Homo sapiens: one gene and its partner. The protein of the gene in region 2 interacts with the protein of the main gene of each other region in a pairwise test. Each region holds a gene or a part of one and is shown on either strand. Other genes may lie near its edges.

What was found.
Region 1: the proteins of MPZL2 (region 2) and MEST interact in a two-hybrid assay, tested with the Homo sapiens proteins (one large-scale study listed by BioGRID and IntAct).

What each region holds. Positions count from the first base shown.
Region 1 is NC_000007.14:130,498,585-130,503,098, forward strand, and holds part of MEST (mesoderm-specific transcript homolog protein), read left to right. Parts: intron 1-1,290; coding exon 1,291-1,331; intron 1,332-1,877; coding exon 1,878-1,948; intron 1,949-2,204; coding exon 2,205-2,306; intron 2,307-4,059; coding exon 4,060-4,136; intron 4,137-4,514.
Region 2 is NC_000011.10:118,260,538-118,266,649, reverse strand, and holds the start of MPZL2 (myelin protein zero-like protein 2 precursor), read left to right. Parts: upstream 1-2,352; 5' UTR 2,353-2,496; coding exon 2,497-2,554; intron 2,555-3,552; coding exon 3,553-3,719; intron 3,720-4,001; coding exon 4,002-4,212; intron 4,213-6,112. UniProt on the Homo sapiens protein: Mediates homophilic cell-cell adhesion.

The DNA.
Region 1 (4,514 bases), on a different chromosome or scaffold from region 2:
AAACTATGGGATCTCTACCTCTTCTGTGCCATCAACTCCTTTGGTGGTCTGACAAGATTTATGGACCCTTTCTCAGAATGTTTTAAAATAAAGAAACAAACAGCATTACAAAGGATAGTGACTTTACTTACATAGTCAATAAAAAGCTGCATTATAGTCACATGTGCTTTTTCAATGCATTAGATAGCAAGTTCTAGTGGAGGACCTAGTAACAGCTATATCAGAAGGAGTGAGGAGTGTAAAGACTGTTTGCCATATCTGAAACAACTGCAATAGGTTATGAGAGTGTAGGATTGAAGATACAGAAAAAAGCCACAAGTGTTTCTAATACTACTATGATGTTAGTGTAGAAAATCCTTACTTAATGTCATCAATGGGTTCTTGGAAACTGTGACTTTAAATGAAACGTTATAATGGAACCAATTTTTTTTCTCATCAATGTTTTAAAGAAAGGATGTTATTCAAGGACCTGCTGTACCTCATTCTGCTTAAAGCCGAAGTTTCCAAGAACCTATCCTGATGTTAAGTGAGGACTTAACTGTATGAGATTCCCCAACTCCTAACTGATGGCAGTGCCAAGTTTCAGTTAGAAAATACCGAACCCCTGATTAGACTTTCTGGGTAGCCAGCTTGCAAGTTCATGAATATCCAAATGTCTCCTGAACGCCTTAAGAGCAGACTGGGAGAGAAATCCGTCTCTCCCTTTATCACTTATGCTCATGGCTTTCTTCCACTGACTCTGAAGAGAAAGGGAAAAGGAAAAACTCTAGGGTTTTTAAAGGACCTATACTTATTTAAAAACTTCTTGTTTTATTCTTACAGCCCAAATCATTAACCCTCGTGTTCTGAGTGATAGGGGGAAATGCTAAGGGGAGTCAGAGCCTGGTTATCAGCATTTTGGATGACCATATATTTTCTCCCCGTTTCACTATCTTTAAGATGGGAAAAGTAATTCCAGTGGGATTTATTGTGACCAGTTAAACACAGAATTCCTGGAGAAGTAATTAGATGACAGTTTTAAATTGTTATTTGTAATTCTGTTTTGGTAGTAAAGGCTGCAGAGGTGATGGTGAATAGGGTGGGTAGTTTCTGATAATGGGCTTGCCTTTGACCTAAATGTAGGTAGGCTGGGTGAGGTGGCTTGCACCTGTAATCCCAGCACTTTGGGAGGCTGAGGTGAGAGGATTGCTTGAGCTCGAGACCAGCTGGGCAACCCAGTGAGATCCCGTCTCTATAAAAAAAAAAAAATTAAAGCTGTAGGTAAATGACTAAGATAAGTCTCTTCTACAGGTATCTTTCCTGAGACTCACCGTCCACTCCTTCTCCAAAAGGTTGGTACTTCACTGATAGACCTTTAGTTTTAGGATTTGTACTGACGTAAATAATGCTGGGACCTTTTAAGGGCCATAGCTCCTGTAACTGGCAGTAGTTAAATCCTCTTCCTTGTGAATTTCTATTAATGAAGTTACTTTTTCCCTTCTTAGGCAACTAAAGCAGAGGCAGTGGCCCCTACGTAAACCCAAAACCAATCCTAAGAATAAGAGATCAACAAATATTTGGAGAAATTACAGCTATGGAAAGATCTGTGTCACAAGCTTGATGTTTGAACAAATTAGGATCCTACTCTAAACTTGAATATATCAGAGTTAAAGTTTTAGGGATTTAGTGAATTGTAGAAAAGTAATCTTAGATGGAATTAGAAATAGATTTGTCTTCCTTGAGAGAAGAATGCGGGTAGGCAAAACAAAATGCCAAGTACCAAACCATTCAGTAGCAGGAGATTTGGCTAAAGATTTAGTTCCTAGTATAAAACCTTTTGCCCCGGTGAGGATCTTCCTCTGGGTTCTTGAGCTTTACCTCCACTTATTCCCCTCCAGCTACTCAAAGATGGAGGTGTGCTGTCACCCATCCTCACACGACTGATGAACTTCTTTGTATTCTCTCGAGGGTAAGTGTCACTGTCAAAGATTGTGGCCTAGAGCAATGTCGTGAAAAGTTGCTGCCATTACAATTCTGGGCCAAATCCTAAGGCTTGATATTTTAAAGCAAAGGTGTTGGCCGCTTGCCAGGGAAGTAGAAGGAATTCATAAATCACTTATGGGTCAGACTGCATGGCCCAGACTGCATGGCCTCTGAGGTTCCAGCCATATTGAACATTCTGAGTTCTCCTCACACTTATCTTCCTGCGTTTTGGACTCTTTCAGTCTCACCCCAGTCTTTGGGCCGTATACTCGGCCCTCTGAGAGTGAGCTGTGGGACATGTGGGCAGGGATCCGCAACAATGACGGGAACTTAGTCATTGACAGGTAAGAAGTTACCCTTTGCTTTGGTTTCCAGAGACGTGTTTTTGTGGAGAGTGGGGATTGCTTGTTCTGTTCCTTGCTGGCTTATTCCCTATCACAGGAAGGCTGATGATGACCTATGGGGCAAACCAAAAAGTCATGGTCTATATGAAGAAAGAAATAGAAAATAAGAGTGAAACTGGACTCTTTGTTAGTATTAAATGCTTCAAAGTATTGAATCATGGTTGTGAAAGTAGCCTAGTGCCTCCCTCAAGGTACAAGGCTCTTCCTTTTGCCTATCTTTCTGCAGCAACGGGGAGTGAGAGGGCAGACTTCTCTTTCTCTGTCTTGTACAAAGAATTCCCATGCCTTGGTTCAAATGAGAATGTAGACACTTTCACAAGGGACCCAGAGGTGGTGATAGCTGTAACTACTTGGGATAAGACTCTGACTTCTAGCCACCTGGCTCAGTGTAGCTTCCAGTGTTTTTACTGATGGCTTTGCTGGGGATTGTATGTTAGAGGGAGCCAATCCTCCCACCCTCTCCTAAGCCCCAACAGGATCCCTGAATATTTCATTTTAGTATTAAAAAACTGAAGAACAATTAAGACTGTCTTTTAAAATTATATTTTCCTTTCCAAAAAGTAAATACTATTTGTAAGATGAGATATTTGAGGTTCACAAAAATAACTGTCCTGGAGTTGCCAGGCAGAATGAGTAGAATACATGAGTTTGAGTTCTAAAATGTGGCAGTGGTGTCTTACGCTGGAGAAAGAGGAATCCTCTCCATTTTATCTGTGGTCAGATGAAGCTTTGTGCTCATCAACATCTACACTTAGAATTTTGAAGTAGATGTCGGCTGGGCACAGTGGCTCACGCCTGTAATTTGAGCACTTTGGGAGGCCAAGGTGGGCGAATCATATGAGGTCAGGAGTTTAGAGACCAGCCTGGCCAACATGATGAAACCCCGTGTCTACTAAAAATACAAAAATTAGCCAGTAATTCCAGCTACTCAGGAGGCTGAGGCACAAGAATTGCTTGAGCCCAGGAAGCGGAGGTTGCAGTGAACTGAGATCATGCCACTGCACTTCAGCCTGGGCACAGAGTGAGACTCCGTCTCAAAAAAAAAAAAAGAAAAAAAAAAAGAAGTAGATGTCAACACAGAAGATCATGTGTTACAATCCTCTTATTTTAAAAATGAGGAGGCTAGCCAGGTCCTTTGGCACATGCCTGTACTCCCAGCTACTTGGGAGGCTGGGGTGGGAGGATCTCTTGAGGTCAGAAGTTATAGCTGTAGTGAGCTATGATTGCACCTGTGACTAGCCACTGCACTCCAGCCTAGGTAACATAGGGAGACCCTGTCTTTTAAAAAACAAACCAACAAATGAGGAAACCGAGTTGAAAGATCTGTGTTATATGTTTGAGTCAGAGAGGTAGGTAGTGGTGGAGCCTAAATTGGAACCTCAGACCTGGGCTTTTTAGTTACATAAAATCCAAACCAACTGTCAGCCTTCCTAGATCTCATTCCCTGCTTAATAAATACACAAACCCACTAATTCTTATATTGATAGTAGGCATAATCACTACTAGAGCTACATGGTGGTTAACTCTAGAGGTTAACAGAAATGGATAAATTAAGTGGGACATTTCCAGGAATGCTAAACTGCTTCTGGATTAAGAAATTGTATCTTGTGTTCCTTGTGGCTCGTTATGCCCTTGAATCCCTGTAACAGTAAAGGTTTCTTGTTCTGCACATGCTGACTTACCTGTCCTACAGTCTCTTACAGTACATCAATCAGAGGAAGAAGTTCAGAAGGCGCTGGGTGGGAGCTCTTGCCTCTGTAACTATCCCCAGTGAGTATTTTTGTATTATTGATAGGAAACTGAAGGACTATAGGGTTAAAGTAATCGCAACTCCTTTATACAATTAGGGTTACCAGATTTAGCAAATAAAAATATAAGATACCCAGTTAAATTTGAATTTTAGATAAACAACAAATGCTTTTTTAGTATTTAAGTATATGTTGTACAATATTTGGGACCTACTTACACCAAAAAAAAATCATTTTTCACCTGAAATTCAAATTTTCTGGGTATCCTTTATTTTACTGGCAACTGTACTCATGACATCTGGAACAGTGATGTGTGTGTGTAGAGTGAAGTATATAAAAAGCTGAGACATTACTGTAAAGGTAGTTGGTATTACTGATTTCTGTGGTGTGCATTGTCAGT
Region 2 (6,112 bases):
AGCCCCCAGTGAGTCTCCTGCTGGCTAAGGTCTAGATACTCACTAGAAATCATTTTTTGGGAAATGTGTAGATGGATGGGACAGATGAGATTCTTTCAAAAACTATTGGTATGTCACAATTTTAAATGACAATCAGGATCTTTCTCTGGAAAAGTTTAGAAAGAAAATGGTGTCTCTGAAAACTTTACTTTTCTTCTTTTCAATTTCCAGAACTCCTCTTCCTTTCCTTCCATTTGCCTGGGCACAAACATAACTTAGGCCTTATGTAGATGCCTGCAGTTTTGGTCTAAGTCCTGCTGACTGGTGTCCAGAAAACTGTGAGGGGCAAACATCCTTTTTATTTAGCATTTTCTCTTCTTAACCTTCTACCCTTGGCCTCTTCCTTGCCCAGTGAGGTGAAGTGGTTGACTGTGGAGCCACTCCTGCTAACTGGAAGGAACTGGGCGTTGCCAGGCACTAAGCCAGGAACTTGAACTCAGCTGAGAAGTGGGATCTGGATAACTCCTGCCCCTCAGAGCAAGGCTGGCAACCAGCTCATGGGTGTTTGGCTACCTGGGGGAGGGATTTCTGCTCCTGACAACAGGCAGTTTGTTCAGTTCTTCCTGCCCTGATTCTTCTCCTGTTGCTTTTCACTGCATCCCTGAGCTCTTTGGTAACTCTACCTCTCACCAGTTTTTGCAATTTGCTGTAGACTTCAAAATCCTGGCTCTACCTCTCCTTCCTCTGTAGCTGTATTTCCCTGCAAAGTTGGAAGCCAACCAAGATCAAGTTTCCTTAACTCTTTTTCTTTCAGGGTCCTGGAGCTGAACTCTTCTGACCTACATACCAGAAAGGCTGTATCTTATCCTTCCTCACCAACATCTGAAAGGTTCCCCCAGCAGACTGATTTTAGGTCCCTTTCTGAACTAGAATCTGACAAAGACGCCACACAGTTTTCAGAAACTCTCACCATGCAACAGATTTTCACTAGCACACAGCTGGTCTGCATTTGGGGCCACCTCTGCTTTCTGAGTTCCAACACAATGGATTTTTGTGGTTGTCTACCTGTTTTTGCTCCATGCCCATGTCATCTTTCTCCTGTTGCTTTCTGTTTTCTGCACTTCTGCATTCTCCTCTCTTTTGGTAGAATTTTCTCTTTTCTTCCCTCTTTATGATGTTTTATTTTTTTCTACTCAGCCTGCCGCCTTCTCTTGTTCCTGCCACCCTTTCTGCTCTGGATTCAGCTAGAAGATTTTATGAGTGACTGAAGAGTTTCTAGACTGCTAATCCAGGGATAAACGCAATCTGTCTTTTTTCAGGGTTAGATTCCCAGCCCAGCCTACTTCTTAACTGCATGTGTAATCTTCATCCCCCTCCTACCGATGTTTCTGTGCCGCTTCATTAATCTGTAAAGATGACCCACCCTCTTTCCAGACAAGGAGGCATCTTTTCTCGTTTAGATTCCTCAGCTCTTTAGACTTCTCAGTCATTTAGCTATTCAAAAAATGACAGATGAAATCCGAGGCACAACAAAGTTATCATGAAAACCTTTTCCTTGAGAGCCCCATGTCTGATTGTTCATATTAGCTGTTATTTGGTGGAAAGAACGCTAGATTTTTAAGAAAAGTTCTGGTTTTGCCACATGGTAGCTGTGCAACCTTGGGCAAATCATTTACCTTCCTCGGGTTCTTAGCGTCCTCACTGGTAGAATGGGAATGCTTCACAAGGGCGTTAATGGAGATGAAACAATCAGCAGGAGAGCACTTTGTAGATTGCACTCGGATGGCAGGGTGAATGAGCAGGGATGGTGTCCTCATTTGTTTTTAAAGTCTTCAAAGGTAAAGGATTGTTAAGCATGGAGATTTGATTTGTTGTTTCTGCCAGGTCTCCTGGAAAGCTACAAACTAGAAGAAGTGCAGGAATCCTTGTGGTAACAGGGGTATCAGCTTTTTGTCCACAGAGGGTCCTAAGGAATTCCGACTCCCGTTTTGAAATTGTATCGAATCCAGTCCCAAGTGAATGTGGCCCTGGGGTGGTGCTTTGAGAAGTGGAATCACTGCAGGACAGTTTCAACATTCACTTCCCAGGCAAGCCTAAAGCCTGTTTTAAAAGGGCGTGTGGGGGCCAAACCCATAACAGTCTGGGACATTTCAGACTGGCACCACCTCCTCTGGCTGTTTCCGAGGCCATCTAGAGGCCAGAGCCCAGTCAGATTAACTGAAAGTAAAGAGAGGACTGCGGGAGTTTGGGACCTTTGTGCAGACGTGCTCATGCTCGTTCGTGTAGAGGGCGGGAGAGAGGAAAGGAAGGAGGGCATTGGGAGCTGAGGCCCCACCTTTCATTTCAGAAAAGTGCACAGGCAGAGCGGGCTGAGTCACAGGCACAGGTGAGGAACTCAACTCAAACTCCTCTCTCTGGGAAAACGCGGTGCTTGCTCCTCCCGGAGTGGCCTTGGCAGGGTGTTGGAGCCCTCGGTCTGCCCCGTCCGGTCTCTGGGGCCAAGGCTGGGTTTCCCTCATGTATGGCAAGAGCTCTACTCGTGCGGTGCTTCTTCTCCTTGGCATACAGCTCACAGGTAAGAGCCGGCGGGCTTCTCTCAGAGTTTCCTCCTTCACTGCTCACTCTATAAAGTTAGCTAATTGTCTTAGAAGTTGCAAGACTTTTGTTTGGGAGCCTGAGCCACAGATACAGTTTGTTTTACTTTGGGTTTTACTGAAACCAAAGTTGGTGGACTGTTTTTGGAGAACTGCTCTCGGACAAACAGGTTTAGGTGTGTTCAGCTGCCAGTGATTCAGGCACAGAGAGGGCTTTCTAATCTCAGGTTACATGCCATTTTTTTGTGTGTGGCTGTTCTCAACCTCCCACTGCTGGCAGGACTTGGCATTTGGATTTCTGTGTGTGGGTCTTGTCTGTGACTCTCAGCAACACCAGGAAAGTGGAGATTGTTAGAGAGAGACCTACTGTGATTTTGAAAGTGCCCCAACACACACATTCTAAATGTAAATATCAAGTTTAAAAAAATGCCACGTGGTACAAAGGTTCTAGGGGTGCAGGCAAACATAAGCTGTCTGGAGTTGATTAATTCAGTTTCTGCAATAGACTAGTAACAGTATGAAATCCACCTAAGGACCCATCTGGAAAACTTACCTGCTAGGAGACCACTTTACATACAACACATAATGCTTAACCTTAATACATAATGTAATGTCTAATCAATGTTATGATTCATTTTAATTTTTTGTTTATGCTTTCAATTCTATTTGCGGATGTTTGTAGTTTGTTATAACAGTTTTGAAGTCAGTACCACGAGGCGAGGCTTTAATGCTGTGGAGAAAGTAAAAGCACTGCGAAGGCTTGCTGTGTGGTAGTTTAGTTGTCACATGGAATGGGAGGGTCCAGGCTGCATACAGGTAGGAGTATGTAGATTCTGGGTGAAGTAAGTTTGGGAGATGGGGCATCTCAGTTTCACTTTACTTTAAGTCCTACTCAGATATTTATTTTGGAAGTGTCAGCAGAAGTTCTCACAATACTACATCCCCTGTTAACCCTTCTTTTTCTTCTTTTTCATTGCAGCTCTTTGGCCTATAGCAGCTGTGGAAATTTATACCTCCCGGGTGCTGGAGGCTGTTAATGGGACAGATGCTCGGTTAAAATGCACTTTCTCCAGCTTTGCCCCTGTGGGTGATGCTCTAACAGTGACCTGGAATTTTCGTCCTCTAGACGGGGGACCTGAGCAGTTTGTAAGTAGATTATCATCATTTTCCAGGGTACTCTTGTTTAGGGAAATAATAAGCCAGTCCATTTCTCCTTTCCCTTCCAGTATTTTTCTTAGCAGCAAGCACAAGGTTAAGCTCGGAAACAATTCTTGGGACAGAGACTGAGAGGCCGTTGAAGGGGAAAGCAAGTGACAGAGCTGCAGACAGGACAGTTGGGTTTGCTGGTGTTTCACTTCCGCTCCCACCATCTTGGCCTCCTTGCCTGGGTGCTGAGTAAGAAGACCTTTTGCCATTTCCCCTCTCTAGGTATTCTACTACCACATAGATCCCTTCCAACCCATGAGTGGGCGGTTTAAGGACCGGGTGTCTTGGGATGGGAATCCTGAGCGGTACGATGCCTCCATCCTTCTCTGGAAACTGCAGTTCGACGACAATGGGACATACACCTGCCAGGTGAAGAACCCACCTGATGTTGATGGGGTGATAGGGGAGATCCGGCTCAGCGTCGTGCACACTGGTAGGTTATGCAGGGAACAGTGGTTTTGGAAAGGATGAGAGCTTGTAGAAAAGAAAGGGGCAATCTTTGTTAAGGCTGAGAGAGAGGGACAATCTTTTGTGATGGATAGAGAGAGGGACTAGCCCTTCAGAACTGGGAGCCTCAGAGGGAGACCGAAGAGTTCTGGGGTAAAAAGAGAAAGGCTTTGTTTGGCTGTGGAAAGAAACAGAAAGTAAAGCAAAGGAACTCAGAGAATCCGTTACAAAAATGGCATTGAGATTGTGAAAGGGAGAGGGAGCAATTCTTTGATGAAAGGCTTACAACAGGTCTGTTCACTCACTCATTTATTCGAGATACTTATTGAGTACCTACTCTAATGCTAGGCACCGTCAAAAGTGCATGACATACACTATCTCATTGAATCCCCACACCACTCTAGGAGGCAGGTACTAATGATGGGAGCTAACACTTACTGAGTACTTCCCAAATGTCAGGGGCTTTACATGACACATTTTATTTAATCTTTACATATCTCATCAGTTTATTGTGCATTTAATGCCTCCCATCTTGCCAATGAGGAAACGAGGCTCACAGAGGTTAAGTCATTTGCCCTGAGTCACGTAGCTGATAAATGGAGTAACTTAGGACTCAAACCCAATCAACTTTGAATCTAAAACTGTGCTCTAAATTGGTGCATTGTATTGTCTGCATCCCTATAAAGGACAATCTGGAAAACCATGCCAAGCAACAAAGAGCAAAGTACACGAAACTTATGAATTGTAGATCTGGGTTTGAGTCATTGCTACCATTTACCAGCTATCAATAAGTCTTATTTTCCTCATCTGTAAAGTGAGAATAACACAGTAAGGATCACAGTGAGGATAAAATGAGATAATAAATGTGAATATGTCCCAACCTCTGAATTGTACTTAACAGCTACCATACATTGAGTGTTTATTTTGTACAGGCACAGCAAGGAACAACTTACATGAATTATTTTATTTTTTATTAAGAACTCAAGAAATGAATATCATTATCTCTGTTTATACATGAGGAAACTGAGGCTCAAAGAAGTTAATTACTTCAAATCACACAGCTAAGTATTTCAACCTAGTGCTCTCTGGTGTGTGCTCTTAACCAACACTACTCCAAACATATAAGCCTGTGCAGTGGTACGATTTCCTTTCATTCATAGTACAGTTTAAAACCATTTCTCAATGCCCCACCAATAGAGGGCTGTGTGACCTTGCAGAAGTCATTTGAGTATTGAAAGAAATAATGTAATGGTTTTGGACCTCAGTTTCTTCATCTGCACAATGAAGAGGTTAAACACACAAAAAATCAGTGGTTCTTAAATATATGTGGATAATTATTCTTTGAGAATCAAATAAAAGCCATGGCCCTGCTTCCCATAAAACAGTGGAGACATACAAAATGAGACTTGGATTCTGTGGGCTTGCAGACTACCTTCCATCCTCTTCCCCATCCTCCTTCATGGAGTCAAGGCTGGGAATCCTGGGCTAGACATTCTCTAATGTCCTTTCTGGCTCTGAGGGCTTATGGAAGTATAATCAGAAATAAAGCTAAAGGACAAGAAAACCAGGGTTCACAGACTCTAGTGTGGCTTAGGGGACCTTCCCTCTGGTTTCCCTTTTCCATCATTTATCCACTAGACTGTAGCTTCTGATTTACTTTCCTATCCTCTCAGTGGCATGAGCTCCTTGAAGGTGATGTCTTTTTTGGCTCAGCATTTCTATCACAGTGCCAGGAATGTAGTAGGCCCTTAATAAATCTGAATAAATAACTGACTGAGTGAAAGTGGTGAGAAGTCAGGGAGAAATGGGTTGGGCACTACGTTTGATGAGGTTAGCAAAAACCTTACCCCATAAGTAGTTCAACCCACCCAGTGGTTTTCAAAGCT